Linked DNA regions of Homo sapiens. The protein of the gene in region 3 interacts with the protein of the main gene of each other region in a biochemical or structural test. Each region holds a gene or a part of one and is shown on either strand. Other genes may lie near its edges.

Region 1 (3,749 bases), on a different chromosome or scaffold from region 3:
CATATGTGTTTATTAGCTTATTAAACATAATGTTTGAGAAACTAGGAAATTGATTTATTTTTTAAAGCCGATCTTGCTTATACCAAGTTGAGGTTTTCAATCTGCTTTTTTTATATCAGAAATTCGATACTGAAAAAAAGCTAATTTTGTGTTTTAAAAAATCAGACTGATTGCTTGGAACAAATGGAATAAATCGTCTTGTCAATAAAGTGATGGTCAATTGAGTCATTTGTGTGCAAAATATTGTGCAAGGCCCGGGTACAGAACAAGGAATAATAAGACACGCCCTGAAGGAGTACATCGTCTAGTGAGGGACAGACCAAGCACGCAAAACAAATTGCAATATAATGTGATAAGTTCTTTAAAAGAGGTAAGAGCAACGTGCTTTGGGAGCAGAGAAGAGGGAGAAAGCAGCATCTTGCCTGGATGAGCCAGGGGACACAGAAGAGAAGCCCACTATCTCATTTAATCTTTACAACTCTCTTGCAAGGTCGGTATTCTACATGGCAAGTAGCTTTGATTGTCAGGGTTCAGGTGAGGACTGGGAATGGAGTGACAATGAAAAGGAATGTGGCTAGAGCTATTAATTCATACCAATTTATGAGTGGTCTGACATACAGCACAGGGACTGTGGACAGTATTGATAAGCCATAGGAAGTTAATAAATGGTTTATAGTAGAAATTAATAAGACAAAATTGAATTTTTAGACGATGACTCAGGCAGCAAAATGGAAGATGGACTGAAATAGAGGAAATATGCAAGGCAGAGATGAATTAGAAGCTCTTGTAGTAGTTTAGGGAGAGATGAGAAGGGCCTGGATCAAAATAATTGTGGTAGGATGGAGAGATGTGACTGGCTTCCAGAGATATTTCTGAAGCAGAAATTGGAGATCTCCTATGTGGATAGAGATAATTTTATCTGACCATGTGTTAAGTGAGCATTGAAAAGCCCAACATGATTTATTACCATGACAATTTTGCAAATGATTTGGATATATAGTATATCATCTTAGTTTAGACCCAAAATTCAAACAAGCAGATTTAAATAATACTCAGATTTCTCATCCTAAGTAAATAGCTGTGCAAATGATACTATAATGTACCTGATTGTCTTTCAATACATTTTTAATGCTCTGCTTCCTGATAACAAATGAAATATTATTTTGCATCTTTTCTCTGTGCTCACTGTATTGTGGCATATTATATAAGAAACGACACACAGATTAGGCAGTGCTACTCTTCTTAAATCTCTCATTTGTTTCCTAGGTTCCCTGGTTGTGAAAATACATGAGATAAATCATGAAGGCCACTATCATCCTCCTTCTGCTTGCACAAGTTTCCTGGGCTGGACCGTTTCAACAGAGAGGCTTATTTGACTTTATGCTAGAAGATGAGGCTTCTGGGATAGGCCCAGAAGTTCCTGATGACCGCGACTTCGAGCCCTCCCTAGGCCCAGTGTGCCCCTTCCGCTGTCAATGCCATCTTCGAGTGGTCCAGTGTTCTGATTTGGGTGAGTGGGATGCAGTTTCTCTTTACCTACCTTACTTGTTTTATTCTTGGGAATGGCAACTCTGAGAGTTTAGCATTTTCAGTTTTAATCTCTCTAAATTTGAGAGACAGTGCCACCTAATGAGGAGTAAAGGAAGCAGAACAGGATAGAAAGAAAAGTAGCGTTGTTGTTCTCTCTTTCTCTCTCTCTCTCCCTCTCTGTCCCTCTTCCTTTTTTCCTCCATTACTTTGCAATCTTGGACAAATCATTTTTAAAAATATTTCTGAGCTTTATATCCCTTCTTCTACAAAATAAAATTTTGAATTAAAAAAGTCTTATGTTCTAAAATTTCAGAGTAATGGTTTAATCTTAATTCTATAATATGCTTTTATAAAATATTAGATATTAAGAAAATCAGGTCAGTCTCTCTACTATTCACTTAGCCCAGACAACAGAGTTTCAACATTACTAAATTGTAAAATAATCAGTTATCAAAAGCAAAACACATCAAATTTTATGACAAAATCTTATCTTTCAAGTATCAAAATACTCCCTTAATCTCTGAGTCTTAGTTTTGTCTTTACTTTTGACATTTTGTAATCCAGCTGCTTATATTCTTTAGAAAGTTTCAAAGGAAATATTTATCACTAAGGTATGGTGTAAATATTCAATATAATTGTGTTACATATATCTTTAGCCTAACACCCTAAAGACAGTTTGATTTATCATCTTTTCAGAAAAATTTGGTCTGGAAATTCCAAGAGCATTACACTTAGAAGATAAATCTCCAGAAAGATTGAAGCTCAGTGGATGGGCCAAAGGGGAATGAACTCAGTTTACATGGCAGCTCATTCACATTCCTCCTTTTGAAGGGGTGTATTTTCTTACTGGAGATGAAAAGAAAAAAAAATCTTTATATCATGATTCCGCCATGTGTACTTCCTTCTGGAAGAAATTCCATACTATGATCAGGCACTTCTTTCAGAAGTCCTATATTTACTCAGAACATGCTTTCTAGCAGTAGTTTGCAGAAGAAAAATGCAACTTCTACAATTGGAATAAACTGCCTATAGGAACCCAGAAAAAATATAAAGTATATTCAGTAGTAACGACTGAAAAACACTTGAAATAGCTTCTTCAACACATATATTGTATAGCTATTTAAAACCCAAATACAAATGTTATATGAAGACTTTCAAAAGGCCGCAGGATAATTCCAATGGATCTATTTGTTCAGTCATTCAGAAGCTATATCGGGAACCCATCATGGATGAGCTCTGCTCTAGGCATGGGGAGAAAGGATGAGGAAGACAAATATGGCCCTAGTTCTTGTGGATCTTATGTTCTAGTGGTGGTGACTATTACTTTTTGAATTGTGTATTTGCCACAGGGGAGATTGGATTACTCTTCAGAAATTTTATAAGCATCTAGAGATGACCTGCATTATTGCCTTGGGCAGGAAAATAACAGGGTTGAAAAAAATCTGAACAAAGAAATCACCATTTGATGGATATACACAGGATAATCTTTTCTGAAGTTACTAAAATGGCGAAGTTCCCAAAAAATGTAATGCGAATTAAATTTCACTTTGCCTCTGAGAAAAAGTTAAAAGAATTTATTATTACTCTCGCTACATGTATTATCAAAAATGAAGGGTTGATATTTTTAAGGAAAGAAGAGTTGGCCAGTCACTTTAGTGAAGTTTTATTTTTTCGTAAATATAGTTTGCCTTTGCTTCCATGAAAAAATAGCTCATAAACCTTGACCCTGATGAAAGCACTGGGCCAGTTTTCCAATTCTCTGTTATGTAAAAAGGCATAAGTCAATTGTTCAAAGTGAAACAACAACAACAACAACAAAATGTAGTCTTAGGAAGCAGCAAGTTCACTGACTTGGGATCTTTATGACAGTTTTGTTGTTGCCATTGATATTGTTTTGTTTATTTTTTGTTTTCAGATGAGAAAGTTTTCTACATGTTATCTTTTTTCTAGGAGCTCAAAGTGTACATCATTCCTTTATTATAGCTAGGTTTACTGACTCATATACTAAGGAAGTAGCTAAAATTATAAAAATAATTTGTTTTTAAAACCATATTTAACTAAGGGAACTAAGTAAGTTCCAATGAGCAGTGGTCTCATGCAAGGTATTTTCAATATTTTAAAATTTACAGATGAATATTTAAATATATTATAAAAGTTTTAATCAGCTATCTCTAAGAAAATACATTTCTTAAAGGGAAATGAAATTCACTTGACTTTAA
Region 2 (3,749 bases), on a different chromosome or scaffold from region 3:
CAGGGAAACAGTCCGACAAGAGGCTGCACAGCACTGATTGGAAACTCAGATGGTTCTGGGGCCGGGCAGGAAACTCAAGTGAGTGGACAGCTTGGCAGGAGGCAGCAGGGAGTGGTGGGGACTGGGGTGACCCATGAGCCCACATTTTGGCAGAGGGAGCAACCGCCACTCAGCCCCAGCTGAGAGTTCCTGTTCAATGCAAGCTGGGAAGCCCCATTTTAATATGAAACCACCTGATTTTTCAATGTTAGCAGTGCCTTCAAAGTTGTAAAAACTCCCATAAAGCCTGCACTAAATGCACCCAAAGGCCAGCCCCAACCCAGGAACAGAGGTCCGCAAGCCATGCCCTAATCCATGTAGACCGAGAAACGTATGGGTTGTGGAGCCCTGCCAGCCCTGGAAAGGGGCCCTGTGGGGAGAGGGCCCTGTGGACGGGAGGTCCAGAAGGTGACTGTCCCAGCCAGGCCCTGCTTAGCCCTTGACGGCTAGACACAGAGGCCATCCTGCCTTCTGGAGATAACTGAGTCCTCCAGAGACTAGGAAACCCTCCAGCTGGTGTGGCCCAGCCTCCCAGGGATAAGCCTTCAGGCCCCCCAAAGACTAGAGCTAGCCCAGCCAAGGGCCTTGGCTACAGGCCGGGCTGGAGGGGGTGTGGGTGTCCCAAGGCTCTCCGGAAGTCAGGAGCTGAGCTGGGCCCCCAAAGGCTCTGAGGCATGACTGACCACAAACGCGGAGGGGGAGGAGGGCAGAGTGTTTTCCTGGAATCCTCCAAGGCAGGGGATTTTTCTGGACTAGTCCGGCCCCTGGCACCCGCCCCTCCTGCCCAATCAAGGGCCACTGTCAACTGCAGCCCAGGCCCCACCCACCGACGGTGACCACCCCTATGCCTCCACAGCTCAGGCTTGAAGCTGCCAGTAACTGTGGGGCCGTGGGCAGACCACCACTGCCCTCCCTGACACAGCCCCTTCATCTCATAATATGGTGGGGAAGAGAGTCCAGGGCTGCTCACAACTCTTAAGGCTGTCGTGGCTAAGAGGACCCTGAGCTCAGATTTGGCATTGGAGTTTATACTTAGGAGGCTCTTGAAAGGGCTTTGTGTGGGCTGCCAGGAGTTTTTTGAAATTGGGATTAGCTACCAACAATAACACATTGAGAGATTTCACCTAAAAATCTGGATTTCCAGTTTCTCTTCAAAAATCCAAAGCTCTAGCTGGCCCGGGCTGGTCATGAGGACTCAGCCCTTACCAGCCCCACTCCCGCCATCCTGCCTCTCCAGGGCCGCAGAGGCCCTGGGGTGGACTTCTGGCATTTGTCACCTGCCTGGTGCCTCATAGGCATCTGGGCTGTGACGCTTAGGATTCCTAAATAGTCTCTCGCTTTTTACACAAAAAGCAGAAACCTGCCCAGTGTCATCCGGCAAACCCACGACGGGCAAGGTCTCCCCGCGCAGGTCAGGTGGCCGCAGGGTGAGGGCCAGGGCAACCCGGCCCACGAGCCCCTCGGTGGGGAAGGGGCGTGTCTCCACGCGGCTCCGCCCCGGCCAATGGGGAGAGGCCCCGCCCCTGCCGCGGCGGGCCCGCCCCCCGGGACTCTTAAGGCGCGACCTGCCTCCAGCGAGCCGACTCCGGAGCCCGAGCCCGGGGCGGGTGGACGCGGACTCGAACGCAGTTGCTTCGGGACCCAGGACCCCCTCGGGCCCGACCCGCCAGGAAAGACTGAGGCCGCGGCCTGCCCCGCCCGGCTCCCTGCGCCGCCGCCGCCTCCCGGTGAGTTTCTGTGGGGCTGGGGGGCTGCGGGCGGGGAAGGGGGCGCCACGGCCAGGCTGTGCACACGCGCGGGGACCGCCGCCGCGCGCACACACGCACTCTCGGGCGGGACCGCGGCCCCAGCCCCACACGGTCACCTGGGCCGCCCGGCGGGCAGGCCCTGTACGCTCCCTCCCCCGCCGTCCTGGGGCGCCGACAGCCCCGCGGCCGGCCAGGGTGCGCGCCTGAGTGTGCGGTGAGCCCGCGAGGCTGCAAGCAGACAAAATAAACACCCCGTCCCATGCTTCCTCCTCCCACGGCTGGGCCTCCGGCATGACCAGTTTTATGAATCAAACCCCTTTGAGGGGGATAGCCAAGCCACAGGCTTGGGTCACTTTTCCCTCCTGGGGTCCGGCAGTAGGTGCTGCTGTGCAGAAGGGCTGCCCGGGGTCCTCTGGACCCTTGTCACTCAAAGCACAGCTGGGGGCTACAGATATGCAGCCCTAGGGAGGGGCGGGGAGTGGCTGGTGGGCGTCCGATGCCCATCCCTCCAGGTGGGGGATGGACCTGTACTGGCCAGGGCCCTTAGAGCTTCGGGTATCAGGCAGGGTGCCGGGTCTCTGCCTCTGCCAGGGAAGGGGCTTTGCTTGGGCTGCAAACCCAGTGGCCTGGAGCCAGCCTAGTCCTTTGTGTCCCTGGGCTGGCAGTGCTGGGGCCTGAGGACTGCTGAGGTCCCCTGTGGTCACTGGCAGGCCAGCCGATTGGTGCCAACCATTCTGCCTCTCCCCCATTCGTTAACGATTGCCACACCAGGGTCACTGACCGCCTCCCCTGCTGTGGCCCAGGGGTGGAGTGTGCAGGGTGGAAGGAAGAGGTCCTGGGGGTCTAGGTGTCCCCATGCCTGCCTTTTGCACCAAGGACAGGTGAGGCTCTGGAGAGAGGCAGCGGGACCTAGAGCCCCCTTCCCCAGGCTGAGAGCCTCCAGGGCTGGGGATTGGATAAAATCTCCAAGGTCCCTTCACACTAGACTGTACTTTGGGTGTTGAGGGCATAGAGGGGTGGCCGGGCTGGGACCTTCCAAGCAGGGTCCATTAGGGCCAGTCCAGGGGGCAGCAAAGTCCAGGATGGGCCCAGCTATTGACAAAAACCCAACAGAGCTGGGGCAGGCGGGTGGGGGATGGGGAGCAGTCCCCTGAGTTTACTCTCTTCTCCCAGGGGAGTTGGCCTGGAGCTTCTGTAAACAGAGTGTCAGAGGCAGGAAGAGGCTCTGGTGATGAGCAGCCCAGCTGGATCCCCTCCAGACCATTATCTAGCCTCCCCTGGGCCTGGGGAGGGAGGATGCGCACACACATGCCAGCCTGGGGGCCGGGCACTGCCTGTCCCCACCCCGCCCCTGTCTCCTGCACGTTGGAACAGCTGTCCTGCTACCTGTGGGTCCGGAGGGTCAGATGGGGATGGGGCTGGGGGCTGGGGTCCCAGGGCATTTGTCCAGATGGCACCTCTCTCTCCATATTCTGGGAATGGGAGAATGGGATTCAGCATAAGGAGCCTCTCAGACACTGCCCAGACCTGTGCTTACCCGAGGAAGGCCCCTCTGGCACGCAGCCCAGGGGCCAGGGAGATGGCAAGGGAGATGCCCCGGGCAGGAGATGGGTCCGCGGCTCCTAGCTCCCATTACTGTCACCCCCACTGACAGCCCCGGGGGAGCTGGGACAAGTCCCAAGTACAGAAAATTAAGTCCTTGCCTGGGCTTATAAGTGGGTCCCAACACAACACTGGGCAGCCTCTGGGAACAAGAAAGCAGGGCCCTGCTGAGCCCAGGAGGGAGCTCCCACCTCAGCAGGCCAGACAGCCAGTCCTGCCAGTGAGCAGAGGTGTGTAGAGGGGAGGCTGCCCACAGGGATGGCTATCCCTGACCACTGGCCAGCCCTGAGCTCATGGGAGGGCAGCAAGGCCACCTAACTCTGTTAGTGACCTCTCCTGGACCCCCCATCAGCTGCCCTT
Region 3 (3,749 bases):
ACCCTTCCTCTCCCTCCTCTCTGTCTTCCTCCCTATCTGTCTTCCCCAGCCAAGGCTCTGCCTTTCCTTTGGGGTTTGCTGAGTAACCTCCGGGCCAAGAATAGGGCTTACTGGGGCTGGGTGGGGAGGGAGACTGGGGAGGAGGAGGAGGATCGAAGGGGGCCGTAGGGGAGGGGTTTCCTCTGCCTTTCTCACCAGTCTCTTTTCACACCCCCACTATGGGAGGCTGGAAGCAGTTGCCCCAGTTGATCCAGCAGTTCATGGCCTGTTCCCTCATCCCCATCCCCAAACTTTTCCTAAACTAGAAAATACCTTGGCTGGGCGCGGTGGCTCACGCCTGTAATCCCAGCACTTTGGGAGGCCAAGGTGGGTGGACCACCTGAGGTCAGGAGTTGGAGACCAGCCTGGCCAACATGGTGAAACCCGGTCTCTACTAAAAATACAAAAATTAGCTGGGCGGGGTGGCGGGCGGCGCCTGTAATCCCAGCTACTTGGGAGGCTGAGGCAGGAGAATCGCTTGAACCTGGGAGGCAGAGGTTGCTATGAGCCAAGATCGCGCCACTGCACTCCAGCCTGGGCGACAGAAACTCCATCTCAAAAAAAAAAAAAAAAAAAGAAAAGAAAACACCTTAATTCCTTTTCTCCCCACTACAGCCATTCCTACCCAGAATGAACTTCACTTTCCCTAACCAGCTGGGGAAGGGAGTTAAGGGTGGAAAACTAATAATAAAAATAAGTAGAAGAATCACTTAGGGGTTAAGAGCACAGTCTCTAGCTGGGTGGGTGTGGTGGCTCATGCCTGTGATCTCAACATATTGGGAGGCTGAGGCGTGAGGATCCCTTGAGCCCAGGAGTTCCAGCCTGCCGTGAGCCATGGTTGTGCTACTGCACTTCCGTCTGGGGGACAGAGTGAGACCCTGTCTCTTGGGGGAAGAAAAAAAAAAAGCACAGTCTCTGGAATGAGACAGCTTGAGTTTGAATCCCAGTCTGCAGCTATGTGACCTTGGGGCAAATTACTTAATCTCGGTGCCTCAGTTTCTCATCTATTAAACGGGTATAATAATAGTATAAGGTTGTGAGGTTTAAATGTCTTCATCTTTGTAAAGTGCTTTAGATAGCATCTGGTAAATAGCGCTGTTTTGTGGTTTTTTGTTGTTGTTGTTTTTGAGACAGAGTCTTACTCTGTCACCCAGGCTGGAGTGCAGTGGCGCAATCTCGGCACACTATAACCTCTGCCTCTCAGGTTCAAGCGATTCTCATGCCTCAACCTCCCAAGTAGCTGGGATTAGAGCCGTCCGGCACCATGCCTGGCCAATTTTTGTATTTTTAGTAGAAACGGGGTTTCACCATGTTGGCCAGGCTGGTCTCGAACTCCCGACCTCAAGTAATCAATCCACCTCGGCCTCCCAAAGTGCTGGGATTACAGGCGTGAGCCACTGCGCCCAGCCAGCACTCTTAGACGTATACATGATTGAGTGACCAGTGTATGCAGAATTGGTGCCACATGGCTTGACCTGGGTCATCTAATTTCCCACTATAATACTGGAATGGGTTCTAGAGTCACTCTGTCTTGTCTTACACCTGGCTCAGAGAGAGGAATTCACTTGCCCAAGGTTACACAGCGCTTAAATTAGGAGAGTCTGTGTGGGAATGCAGGGAGCTTAATGTTATTGCTGTTTTTCAAAGAATAACAGGAAACTGACATTCAGAAAGAGGGTGTTAACTGCCCATGGTCACACAGCCAAGAGGCAGCAGAGGCACTATCTGAGTCCAAAGCCTGTGCCTTTGATCCTTACTCTGCATTTTAGGGGCTCTTGCATTTGGGGCAAGGAAGGCCAGAGCAAACAGAGTGGTTCCCCTTGGTGCCAGCCTTAGTCGACTTGAGAGATGATGCTACATGAGAGAGGAATGTGGTTAGGACCTATTTTACAGAGGAGGAAACAAACCTAGGGGGAGAAACCACTTCCTCAAGGTCACACAGCTAAAAAGTATCACAGTCAGGGCTGGGCGTGGTGGCTCACACCTGTAATCCCAGCACTTTGGGAGGCCGAGGCGGGTGGATCACGAGGTCAGGAGATCGAGACCATCCTGGCCAACATGGTGAAACCCCATCTCTACTAAAAATACAAAAATTAGCTGGGCATGGTGGCATGAGCCTTTAGTCCCAGCTGCTCGGGAGGCTGAGGCAGGAGAATTGCTTGAACCCTGGAGGCGGAGGTTGCAGTGAGCAGAGATTGCGCCACTGCACTCCAAGCCTGGGTGACAGAGCGAGTCTCCGTCTCAAAAAAAAAAAAAAATTCATTTAAATAAATAAATAAATAAATAAATAAATAAATAAATAAATAAAAGGTATCAGAGACTGACTCCACCCCAGAGCTGTCAGCTCCAAAACTCCTAGAGTTGGGAGCACCAGCTCCCCTCACCTCTGCCAAACCCCTGATCGCCTCCCTTCATTTCTCCCTGCTAGAAATCTATGACAAGTTCAAGCAGAGTACACACAGCATATATATGTTCTTCAACACATCAGAGCTCCGAGAAGCGGTACCTGAACCCGTGTTGCTCTCCCGGGCAGAGCTGCGTCTGCTGAGGCTCAAGTTAAAAGTGGAGCAGCACGTGGAGCTGTACCAGGTGAGGACATGAGCCAGAAGGAAGGTCAGGGCATGGGCTGGAGAGGGTGAGCTGTGACCAAGGGGGTGGCTGTGGGTCGGCTGGTTACAAGGTCCACCTAGATGGTCCCTGAAGGATAGAAGAACACAAACCATACAATCCTAGAACGCTTTTTTTTTTTTTTTGAGACAGTGTCTCACTCTGTTGCCAAGCTGGAGTGCAGTGGTATGACCTCAGCTCACTGCAATCTCCGCCTCCTGGGTTCCAGTGATTCTCCTGCCTCAGCCTCCCAAGTAGCTGGGATTACAGGTGTGCGCCACCACGCCCAGCTAATTTTTGTATTTTTGGTAGAGATGGGGTTTTACCATGTTGGCCAGGATGGTCTCGATCTCCTGACCTCGTGATCCACCTGCCTCGGTCTCCCAAAGTGCTCAGATTACAGGCGTGAGCCACTGCGCCTGGCCTCTTTTTTTTTTTTTTTTTTTTTTGAGATGGAGTCTTGCTCTGTCGCCCAGGCTGGAGTACAATGGGGTGATCTCGGCTCACTGCAACCTCCGCCTCCTGGGTTCAAGTGATTCTCCTGCCTCAGCCACCCGAGTAGCTGGGATTACAGGCATGTGCCAACACGCTGGGCTAATTTTTGTATTTTTAGTAGAGACAGAGTTTTATCATGTTGGCCAGGCTTGTCTCAAACTCCTGCCCTCAAGTGATTCTCCTACCTGAGCCTCCCAGAGTGCTGGGATTACAGGTGTGAGCCACTGCACCCGGAACCTAGAGCACTTTTAAATGTTCAGACTCTTTGCATCCTAGGATGTTAAACACTTAGAAGGCTGGAATCTTAGGAGTTGGACTCTTTAAGGACACAGGATTCTTGAAAGTTGGAATCTCTGAAAAGGTTGGGGGCTCTAGAATCATTCTGTCCAATATGACAGCCACTAGTCACATTTAGCTTGATTAAAATTTAAATTGTTTAAAATTAAATTAAAAATTTAGGGCCAGGCATAGTGGCTCACACCTCTAATCCCAGAACTTTGGGAAGCCGAGGCAGGCAGATTGCTTGAGCCCAGGAGTCCGAGACCAGTCTGGGCAACATGTTGAAACTTCGTCTCTACAAAAAATACTAAAATTAGCCTGTTATGGTG

The links.
Region 1: the proteins of TGFB1 (region 3) and DCN form a complex in vitro, tested with the Homo sapiens proteins (3 studies listed by BioGRID).
Region 2: the proteins of TGFB1 (region 3) and VASN form a complex in vitro, tested with the Homo sapiens proteins (one study listed by BioGRID).

What each region holds. Positions count from the first base shown.
Region 1 is NC_000012.12:91,176,103-91,179,851, reverse strand, and holds part of DCN (decorin isoform a preproprotein), read left to right. Parts: intron 1-372; exon of another isoform or gene 373-490; intron 491-1,205; exon of another isoform or gene 1,206-1,266; 5' UTR 1,267-1,299; coding exon 1,300-1,510; intron 1,511-3,749. UniProt on the Homo sapiens protein: May affect the rate of fibrils formation.
Region 2 is NC_000016.10:4,370,228-4,373,976, forward strand, and holds the start of VASN (vasorin precursor), read left to right. Parts: upstream 1-1,620; 5' UTR 1,621-1,766; intron 1,767-3,749. UniProt on the Homo sapiens protein: May act as an inhibitor of TGF-beta signaling.
Region 3 is NC_000019.10:41,347,174-41,350,922, reverse strand, and holds part of TGFB1 (transforming growth factor beta-1 proprotein preproprotein), read left to right. Parts: intron 1-2,467; coding exon 2,468-2,628; intron 2,629-3,749. UniProt on the Homo sapiens protein: Transforming growth factor beta-1 proprotein: Precursor of the Latency-associated peptide (LAP) and Transforming growth factor beta-1 (TGF-beta-1) chains, which constitute the regulatory and active subunit of TGF-beta-1, respectively.